Regions from separate parts of the Homo sapiens genome. Here region 2 is linked to region 1. The links come from fine-mapping of genetic effects on gene expression. Tissue or cell type: whole blood. Region 1 holds a variant in brackets; the other region holds the start of a gene. All regions are shown on one strand. Distances are from middle to middle.

Region 1 (5,377 bases):
ATGGTCATTGTTGTTTTAGCTGCCAGCAATTATGAGATTGCAGTTTTTGACTCATTTGCTAGGCCAGATTCCCTCATGGAAACTCTTGCTTGTCCTGGAATATTTTTCACTCCGGTCCCAGCATCCCCACACCCAGGGAGATCTATGTATGTGCTTCTGTTTTTATGTGGTCCTGCCCAAGGCCAGGTCCCTCACTTTGAGGTGGGCCTCTTCTAGTTACCGTGGACTGGCGTTTCTCACCCCAGGAACATTTGGCAATGTCTGGAGGTGTTTTGGTTGTCATAACTGGGCTGGCTGTGCTGCTGGCATCTGGTGGTTAGAGGGCAAAGATGATGCGAAATATCCTACAATGCACAGGAGAGCCTCCCACAATAAAGAATCTCTAGTCCAAAATGTTGTGGTGGCCAGGTTGAGAAACTTTCTACAGGCCAAGAAGTAAACTACAGTTCATTTATTTGGGCACATGTACCCCGCTACACTATGAATCTTATCCTAGGGCAATTAGGGTAGGATATTGGTTAAATATTGGGGCAGGGAGGTTGGCCTGAAATAGACCAGACTTGGATTGTCATTCTGACAGTCACCTTACCACCGGGTTTTAAATAATAAAGCACCATTCATTAGCTGTGTGACCTTCAGCAAAGTGTCACCTTCTCTGAGCCTCAAGTTTCCTTGTCTGTAAAGGGGACAGAATCCTTACCTCTCAGATAAGCAGGGCTCTAAAGCTCCCCTCACAGTGCCCAGCACATAGCAAGCATAACATTTAATCATTAAGCAAAAGTTGTTGAGGTCTTACTATATCAGTTGCTGATGAATCCATCAGTGAATAGAGGAGGTAGATATGCCTGCCTTCAAGGAGTTTACCTTCTATTGGAAGGAAATAGACATGAAAGAAACAAACAAACCTATAAATACAGCACATGTTGAATATAAAAAAAAAAGAGAAGGGCAGAGGGTGTGTAGATGGACAGTGGCAGGGATGCTGATAGGGATGTGGCTGTTCTTCTCTCTAAAGAGGCATCCTCTTGGAGTTTTTTTCTTCTAGTAGTAGTTGCCTGTTCCTCCCTCAACTCTAGTTCTCTCATGTAGTTTTTCCCAGTGGTACTGATGATGGGTTCAGGGGTAGCTCATGGTATGTGGTCAGTGCTGTTATGAACACCTGCCCATCACCCATGTGCTGTCCCCAGACCATACCAGCTGCTGCCCCTTTTCCCCGGGGCCAGACGGCTGCTGACCACTCACTGGTTTGGTATTCTTTTATTATTATTCTTTTTTATAGAGACAGGGTCTTGCTACATTGCCCAGGCTGGTTTCAAACTCCTGGCCTCAGGTAATCCTCCCATCTCAGCCTGTCAAATTGCTAGACTTACAGGTGTCAGTAACCTCACCTGGACAAATGGTTGGCATTCTTTATTCCTCCCTTGGGATTCTTCTTTCAACATCCAGTCCCTTCTGAGTGGAGTAAGAAAAAATGTTTCTTTTAATCCAGCCTAATTAAAGGTGTAAATTTGAAATTTGATTGGTCAGATATCAGCCATTATTCCTAAAACTGAGCAAATGTATTCTCTCTCTTTCCTTAAGTAGATTTATATTCCTAGAAGGCAGGAGCTGGATCCCATCTCATTGAAACTTCCCCAAAATGCATGTCTTGCATGTAAACAGTAGATGCAGTCCCCAAAGTAGAAAGAGCTCAGGCTCTGTTGGAACCAGATCTGGTTTTGAATCTTAGCCTCCCTCAACCTCAGTTTCCTCCTCAGTAGAATGGGAATAAACCCCCAACTTGCAGGGTGGTTGTGAGAATCAGAGAGAATATATCAGAAGTGCTACGTGTAGGCAAAGCGCATAAAAGACCCTCTGTGATATCCCCCATAGTACCCTGAGCCCAGCAATCACTAGGGAAACGCAAAGCAAGAAATTCATAGTGGTAGAGCTCACCTAGTACAGCTTACTGCTCTCTTTTTTCCCATGCCGCAGCAGAAGACAATCTCCAACTCTCTGGGAAATTTTTAAATAAATTAATTAAAATATGCTCAATCTTACCTTCAAAACACAAAACTGAAATTAAGGTATAGTTGTTTAACCTATCAGATTGATAATAATACCTTGTTGATGAGAGTGTGAGCAAAGTGTACTATTATGTACCTATCTGAGGAATATAAAGTTGAATAGCCTATTTGGAGGTCAACTTAGTGGTACATCTCAAACATTAAAATGTTCATACTTCTTAGACCAAGGAATTCCACTTAAGGAATTCCTGCCTTTTAGAAGTATCAGCACAAATACACAAAGCATGTTCACTGAGGCACTTTTTGTAATAGCCAGACACTGGAAACAATTTTAATGTCCATCAGTTGTGGATTGATTAAATCAATAGGTCTGTCCAGACTATGGGAGGGATACTAATTCTGCAGCCATTAAAAAGAATACGTGAATTTGAGGTAATGGAAATGTTTTGGAACTAAATAGAGATGGTAGTTGTACAACCTTGTGAATATACTAAATAGCACTGAATTGTTCACTAAAAAATGGTTAATTGTAGGCTGGGCACAGTGGCTCATGCCTGTAATCCCAGCAGTTTGGGAGGCTGAGGCGGGAGGATCTCTTGAGACCAGAAGTTCAAGACCAACCTGGGCAACACAGCAAGACCCCATGTCTACTAAATCAAAAATACAAAAGTTAGCCAGGCACTTGCTTAGCGGTGGCACTCATCTATAATCTCAGCTACTCAAGAGATTGAGGTGGAAGCATCACTTGAGCCCATGAGTTTGAGGTTACAGTGAGATATGGTTGCACCACTGCACTCCAGTATGGGCAACAGAGCAAGACCCATCTCCAAAAAAACAACAACGAAAAAGTAATTGAGTTATGTAAATTTCACCTCAAGATACTGTCAAGTAGAAAGAGAAAACATTCTCGGCCAGGCGCGGAGGCTCACGCCTGTAATCCCAGCACTTCGGGAGGCCAAGGCAGGCGGATCACGAGGTCAGGAGATCGAGACCAACATGGTGAAACCCCATCTCTACTAAAAATACAAAAAAATTAGCTGGGCCTGGTGGCGGGCTCCTGTAGTCCCAGCTACTTGGGAGGCTGAGGCAGGAGAATGGTGTGAACCCAATAGGCAGAGCTTGCAGTGAGCCGAGATCGTGCCACTGCACTCCAGCCTGGGCGACAGAGCGAGACTCCATCTCAAAAAAAAAAAAAAAAAAAAA[T/AT]TCAGTTTTCTATGAATGTTAACAAATGCATGGAAAAAGTTTGGAAAGAGCTAGAACAAACTTAACAGTTGTTACTTCTAGGAGATAGACTTGGGGAAATGAGGGCATTTGTACTTAATTTTATATACTTTTGTAATGTATGAGAATTTAAAGTTAGCATACATTATTTTCAAACTGGTAGGGGGAGTTTAAAGTTAGCCAAGGACTGAAAATATAACAGGATAGGAGGTTGATTCTCTCAAGTGAAAGTGGAAACTTTCATTTTGAAGTTTTTGTGTGTGTTTCCTTTCTTTCTGCTCTTTAATTCTTAACTCAGCTGCCATCAGAACTGCAAACTGGGTTGAGCAAGTTACTTAATGACTCACTGCACTTGTTTTGACCTTTTAATGCTTGTGGCTAATTGATTCCGAGTGCTGGCGATCTGTGTGCATTTAGTTCCTGGTTACTGTTTACAAGGGACTGTTTTTAAGAGATCACAAGGATTTGTAAGATACCATTAGTGAACTGTGTATTTGGTGCAAGTACTTTCTTGACCTGCATAGGGCTGGTCCAGCCATCATGAGCTCATTAGTGAGCCCAGGAGCACCCCCACTACTTGTGCCAGCCTAAGGGGCTTGTGTTGCTACTTGCAGAGTGAGCGTCCTGCTTCCAGAAGGTTGTGGTAATACCCTGAAGCTCTTTGGAAGTTTCTTTTTACATTTTTCATTTATTCTTACATATATATCTATATATATTTTTTTAATTTAGAACTGAAATGAGGTCTTGCTACGTTGCCCAGAGTGGTCTCGAACTCCTCAGCTCAAGCCATCCGCCTGCCTTGGCTTCCCGAAGAACTGGGATTACAGACATGAGCCACCAAGCCCCGCCTCATTTTCTATTTTTTTTTTTTTCCTTTAGAGGGAGTCTTGCTCTGTCGCCCAGGCTGGAGTACAGTGGCGCAATCTCAGCTTACTACAATCTCCACTTCACGGGTTCAAGCAATTCTTCTGCCTCAGCTTCCCAAGTAGCTGGGATTACAGGCACCTACCATCACGTCCAGCTAATTTTTTTTGTATTTTTAATAAAGACAGGGTTTCACCATGTTGTTCAGGCTGGTCTTGAACTCCTGACCTCAGGTGATCCGCCCGCCTCAGCCTCCCAAAGTGCTGGGATTACAGGCGTGAGCCACCACGCCCGGCCATTTTAGACACTTTGGGAGGCCGAGGCGGGCGGATCACGAGGTCAGGAGATGGAGACCACCCTGGCTAACACAGTGAAACCCCGTCTTTTCTAAAAATACAAAAAATTAGCCGGGCGTGGTGGCAGGTGCCTGTAGTCCCAGCTACTTGGGAGGCTGAGGCAGGAGAATGGTGTGAACCCGGGAGGCGGAGCTTGCAGTGAGCTGAGACTGCGCCACTGCACACCAGCCTGGGCGACAGAGCAAGACTCCATCTCAAAACAAAAAAAAAAGGCTAAAAATATATAAAGGAGGACAGAAATCACTCATAATGTCAACATGAAACAACAATAGAATTTTGTGATGTTCCCTTTATATCTTTGCTCATGTGCATTTTTTGCATAACTATAAAATGTTCACATATAGATTTTTAATCCTGATTTTATTTTAGGCTACATAGAAGGGGTGTTTACATTTTAAATTATCTCTGAATTGTCTAGATAATATTCCATCCAGCAGGTAATTATAACTTTTTTTTTTTTCTGAGACGGAGTCTCACTCTTGTCGCCCAGACTGGAGTGCAGTGGCACGATCTTGGCTCACTGCAATCTCCGCCTCCTGGGTTCAAGCGATTCTCCTGCCTCAGCCTCCTGAGTAGCTGGGATTACAGGCACATGCCACCACGCCCCGGCTAATTTTTGTACTTTTAGTAGAGACGGGGTTTCACCATGTTGGCCAGGCTGGTGTCAAACTGCTGACCTCAGGTGACCCACCCACCTCGGCTTCCCAAAGTGCTGGGATTACAGGCGTGAGCCACTGTGCCCAGCCACTTACAACTTATTTAACAATGCCCTTATGTTGAATAGTTCCTTTTAAAATTTTTCTTTACTTTCTGGAATTTTATTGTTGAATCTCAAAATAACTGGGAACTACCTTAGAATGCCTTTGTGATGAAGGCTCATATGTCATAAGCAAATTCAATTCCTGACCTCAGGAAGTTTCTAGTTAAGAG
Region 2 (5,377 bases), 43 kb before region 1:
AGACAAGCCCTGAGTGACGCATGTCACTGCCTCTGGCCCTGCCTTTGGCTGCATAGTTAATCAGGGGCTACTTGGAGATGAGGTTACTCTCACACCCCCACCAAGCTTGGCTAAGCTTTTGGAGCACTTGTGTGAGCTCCCCATCAGCACAGCTCAGGCTAAAAGGATAAAATTGTGTTCAGGAATACAAATAGGAAAAATCAGTGGTTCTGAGGTGCTCTTTCCTGCCCCATACCTCTTCTGAGACAGTTTTCTTCCTATTGCTTCAGGTTATCTATCGAGGGAAAAAAACTCAGGTGCTCTCTTCAATTTCAGTTGGAACCTCCACCCATTCAGGAGCTTCATTTACATGTGTGGTAATAACAGGCTGGTTACACAGGGCCCAATTCTTTCTGCCTCCAAAGGCAGTTTGTCTGCACTAGCTGGGTAGGAAAGTAAGTGGATTTAGTGTGAGGGTGTGGATTTGATACCTGGGATGAAGAGCTATGTATTATGAGGTGTCCTGCCTGAGAAGTAGGAACTGCTGGGTTCTGACCTCAGCTAGAAGCAAAGAGCACGCAAACAGGGACTGGATATCACCATTCCCACTATCCCCTGCATCCCCAGGAAGTAAAAACAAAAGATAGTGTCTCCATAGATCACCACCTGATGTAGTCATGACTTTCCACATGAGGAGGAAAAAGATTCAACAGTACAGTCTACAAAATAACTTTTGAGAGATGATCATTTTAGGGCTGGGCATGGTGGCTTACACCTGTAATCCCAGCACTTTGGGTGGTTGAGGCAGGTGGATTGCTTGAGCTCAGGGGTTGGAGACCAGCCTGGGCAAACATGGCAAAACCCTGTCTCTACAAAAATACAAAAATTAGCTGGGCACACTGGTCCAGGCCTGTAGTCCCAGCTACTTGGGAGGCTGAGGTGGAAAGATCACTTGAGCCCAGGAGGAGAAGGTTGCAGTGAGCCAAGATCATGCCACTACACTCCAGCCTGGGCAACAAAGCAAGACCCTATCTCAAAAAAAAAAAAAAGAAAGAAAATATGATAATTATAATATTTTAAAAAACTATAATTTCCCAAGAAGTGCCATGAATGAAGGTATTTTTCTTTTTTTCTCTTGAGACAGGGTCTCACTCTGTCACCAGGCTAGAGTGCAGTGGTGCAACCATAGCTCACCACAGCCTTGAACTCTTGGGCTCAGGAATCCTCCCACCTCAACCTCGGGATTAGCTGAGACTACAGGCATGCACTACCATACCTGGCTAATTTTTAAATTTTTTTGTAGAGGCAGGGTCTTGCTATGTTGCTTAGGCTGGTCTTGAACTGTTGGCCTCAAGCCACACTGCTGCCTTGGCCTTCCAAAGTGTTGGGATTACAGGTGTGAGCCACTCTACCTAGCCATCTTTTCTTTTTTCTTTTCTTTTCTTTTCTTTTTCCTTTCTTCCTTCCTCTATTTCTTTCTTTTTTTCTTTTCTTTTTTATTTTTTCTCAGGGTCTCTGTCACCCAGGCTGGAGTGCAGTGGTATGATCTTGGCTCACTGCAACTTCTGCCTCCCAGGCTCAAGTGATCCTCCCACCTCAGCCTCTGGAGTAGTTGGGATTACAGGTGTGCACCACCATCCCTGGCTAATTTTTTGTATTTTTTTTGTAGACACAGGGTTTCACTGCTGCCCAGGCTGTATTTTTCTTATAAAAAATTTTAAAACATGAGCTATAAGCTTAAGTCCCTTTTGTTCACTATCTTTAATTCTTTAAACCCAGGTGCCTCCCTTCAGCCACAGGGGAACTGGTAAAAGCTTGCTGTGGATTCTTGTAGACAGTGTTCAATGCTATTTACCCACAAATATGTCTTTATAGAAAATATATGATATTCTTTGGTAAACTTGTATTTTTTTTTAACACAAATGGTATTGTATTATGCTTAGTCTGCAATTATTTTTAAACTGAGTCTAATACATTGGAGATCTTTCCATGCCACACCCATAGACCCATCTCCTTTTTCACTGCTGCTAAGCGGTATTACACAGTGAAGAAAGTTTATTTAAGCACTCCCTATTGATGGATATATTACCATTGTTTCCAGTTATTTTTTATTTTTTACTGCCCCAGACAGGGCTGCTGCAAACAACCTTAAGATCAATCGCCTTCTTGGGCATTTATAATGTCATTGTTTCTCCAAAAAGGATCCAGAAAGGTGTGGTAGTGCCAGGTCATCCATGCACAGCTTTATACTTGAAGGACACTCTGTCAGATTGCCCTCGAGTGTCAGGCAGCCTCTGAATATGCTAGTCAAATTTAAAAGTTGGTGCAAAGTGGGAAAGGTCTCGAGGGAATTTTCCGGGGGTGGTGGAAATGTTTCGTATACCGACTGTGGAGGTGGTTATACGGGTGTTTACATTTGTCAGAACTCAACAAACGGTACTCTTAAAATGGGTGCATTTTGCCATTTGTAGATTATATTCCACTGACATTCATTTAAAAAACCAAACAAAAACAAAACAAAACAAAAAAAACGTGCAGTGGCCTGGGAACAGGGTAAGAGAGAACACCACCCCTTTCTAATGTGGGCTTTTAAAACGCTCGCTTTTCCCCCCAGGCTCCTTCCTGCCTCCAGGTGTCACTACAGCCTCCTTTCTCCCCGTTGCCCGGTTTCGCCCCAGCCTCCTTTCTACCAGCAGCCTTTCACCCGGAGAGTGCCAAAGAGCCCGAAAGGAGCTATCATGGGGTCTGCCTGCCCCGCAATCGCGGCCCACGCTCTGCGGGGGCGCCCGGAGTCGAATACCAGCGGGGAGAGAGAGGTCCCTCTCCACCCGCGGGACCGCCCCACGCCCCTCGCAGCCCCAGGAGGTGTCCGCGCTGCGGCACGTGGGCCCTCCCGGCAGCGTGGGGCGGTGCCGAGCCGGCGGCCCGCCCCCTCCCCACCCATCAAGGCGTGGCTGGCACGGTCCCGCCCACTCGGCTCCGGAGCCCAGTCGAGTCCTGCCCGGCTAGAAGCCGGCTGTCGGTCTCCGTGTCGCCGCCGCCGCCCGGCATCGTGGAGCTGGGGCCCCCTTTTGCCTGGGAGTTTTGTAGTCGCCTAGGGTCAGCGGTGACATCCCAAAGGGCAGGCCCGGCAGCCGCCATGGTGGCCAAGGATTACCCCTTCTACCTCACGGTCAAGAGAGCGAACTGCAGCCTGGAGCTACCCCCGGCCAGCGGTCCGGCCAAGGACGCTGAGGTAGGGCCGCGCCCTGCACCTGGACCTCTATGGGTCATCTGCCTGTCTCGTCTGCCTCCATCTCCCATTCTCGGCGCCCGTCCAGTGTCACTGTCTCTGTTTCCATCTCTCACTCTCCGTGTGTGCCACTTTCTCTCTCTACATCTCTCCCACAGTCTTCTTTGTGTCTCCCCGTCGCCATCTCTCACCCTGTCTCCTTTTCTCTCGCTTTTTCTCTGTGGACCAAGCACTAGCTGCCTCCTCTCTCCCTGTCCCTCTACCTGCCGGTCTGGGAGCAACTGCCTCCTTGCCTTTGCAGGGCTCTCAGACTGTCCATCTTCTGTCTGGACTCTCAGAGGGACTTTCTCCTACTGTCAGCAAGCCCCAGTGTCAGGGAAGTGTCAGCAAGCCCCAGTGTCGCTACCCTTTAAGCGAGTTTTTTTTGCCTGGGTTGTGAGAGCAGAGGGACGTACCAGCCCTCTCACCTGTCAGACTTGGCCTTGCAGCCCTTTGGCAGCAAAAACAGGACACAGCGCCTCTGCCTATCACCTGTGGCCAGTGAGGGTCATTCAGCCGGGGGGCTGGGGCTAAATGAGTAAATTGGAGTGTCTCCCACATGGATCTTGAAAATGAATTAAAGTCCTTAGGGTCAATGGAAAGCTGCCTTGGAACATTGGAAACATTTCTCTTTCTGGGAACTTTCCTGTGCCTTGCGGGCGATGTGAAGGAGTGCTCCCAGGTTATGTTTAGTCTGCCTTTTCCTCTTGCGTGTTATTTCTCTGGCACATAGCTCACTGGCCTTAAAGGTTGGGTTCAGCTGGAGGAGAAAGCATCCCTCTCTTTGAGGGTCTTAGGGAATACAGTCGCTTTCGCTAGATTACAGCTTTGCTGTGGTCAAGCTGCGGTGGAACCCACAGGACCCAGCTAGTCATTGCCGCTCATGCGTGTATCTGGGAGCTTTCCACTCTCCCACACCTCACTCTGCGAACATCAAACATCACCACCACCACTGGGGAAAGGCTGAAGGCAGGTGTGCATCCGGCCTTGTCACAGCATTCTTGAGGTTCCACCCACTCGCCTTCCTTGGGTCTGCTCAGCTGTATGCACTTGGCTCACTGAATCATGTATATTCGGGAGCACACCATCAAAGATTCATTTCCTCTAGCAAGAGCTGCTCCAGGCTGACAGGACTCCAAGCAGTCTCTGGTTGTATTCAGCTTTCTATACGCTGAGCACAAACTAACTTCTCCCTCACTCAAACCCAACCCTACACTCCAGCTCAGTCGAATATTATCACAAAGAGTTTTTGTTGCCAGCAGCTGTGAAAGTGTGATGGCCCTAGTGGCATTTGCATAGAATTCAGGTTGGTCAGGCCTGGAATGGATATAATATTTTTTCAGTGGGAACTTCCTAATTTAATCAACATAGGAGCAGCGCAATTGGTGCCCACTCAAACTCCACTTGTAAGGAAGAAAGGCATAACCAATAAATTAATAAATTGAAGTGGGCCAAAGAAAAGAATAGTGAGGATAGCTGAGGACTCTAACCAGTCCCTTCCTACTATTACTTAGTCCTGTGTTTTTGAGTAGTTTAGCTAAAGGCTTAGGTAAAACTTGCCTGCTTAATTTCATTTTATTCTTATACATAGAATATAGATATGTCTATATATCACAAATATGAAACTTATCACATGTCAAATATTAATTTTCTTCATTGGTAGCTGGATCTAGACTATAAAATATGACTTATTTTCCTCGTATGGGGATATCCTGATGTGAGAAATAAGGAAGGGGTTGGAATAGTTTTGGAAATAGTTGGTAAATATTTTTCAGATATCACTATTGGGGTTTTTGTTTTTTAGTGTTTGATTTAAACACTAAATCAAGTATGCTTTATACACTTTGAGGCAGAGATATCTTTTAGCTTCATCGATGAGCATATCACTTCCTGATAATGGAAATTGGCAAAATTGGAAAAAGAAACCTAAGTGAGTTTAGTGGGTAGTTTTCTGGTTTCCTTATCAGCGCAAAAGGCAGCCAACCCTTGTAGGCCTAGCTTCTCCATAAGCAGTTAACTAAAATATATTTTCCACCAGTAGGTGTCGTCAGTATTCATAAATTAAAAAATAGCATTCGCTTGTCAGCCTTTTGAAAAACATGATTATATAATTGTTTATAAGCTAGG

Evidence for each region. PIP is the estimated chance that this variant, and not a neighbour inherited with it, causes the effect.
Region 2: it holds the start of ARHGEF3, and the variant in region 1 is fine-mapped to the expression of ARHGEF3 in whole blood (INTERVAL, PIP 0.91).

The regions. Positions count from the first base shown.
Region 1 is chr3:56,757,007-56,762,383 of GRCh38, reverse strand. The region is part of intron 2 of ARHGEF3 (Rho guanine nucleotide exchange factor 3); the gene reads left to right. Among named protein-coding and RNA genes, the nearest start is that of ARHGEF3, 42 kb to the left of the region's middle. The variant T/AT (reference allele first, on the strand shown) is at 3,210.
Region 2 is chr3:56,799,540-56,804,916 of GRCh38, reverse strand. ARHGEF3 (Rho guanine nucleotide exchange factor 3) reads left to right here and starts at 2,968. Exons shown (of 10, transcript NM_019555.3): 1 at 2,968-3,214. The coding sequence starts at 3,119. RefSeq lists a silencer at 2,799-2,968 and an enhancer at 5,333-5,377.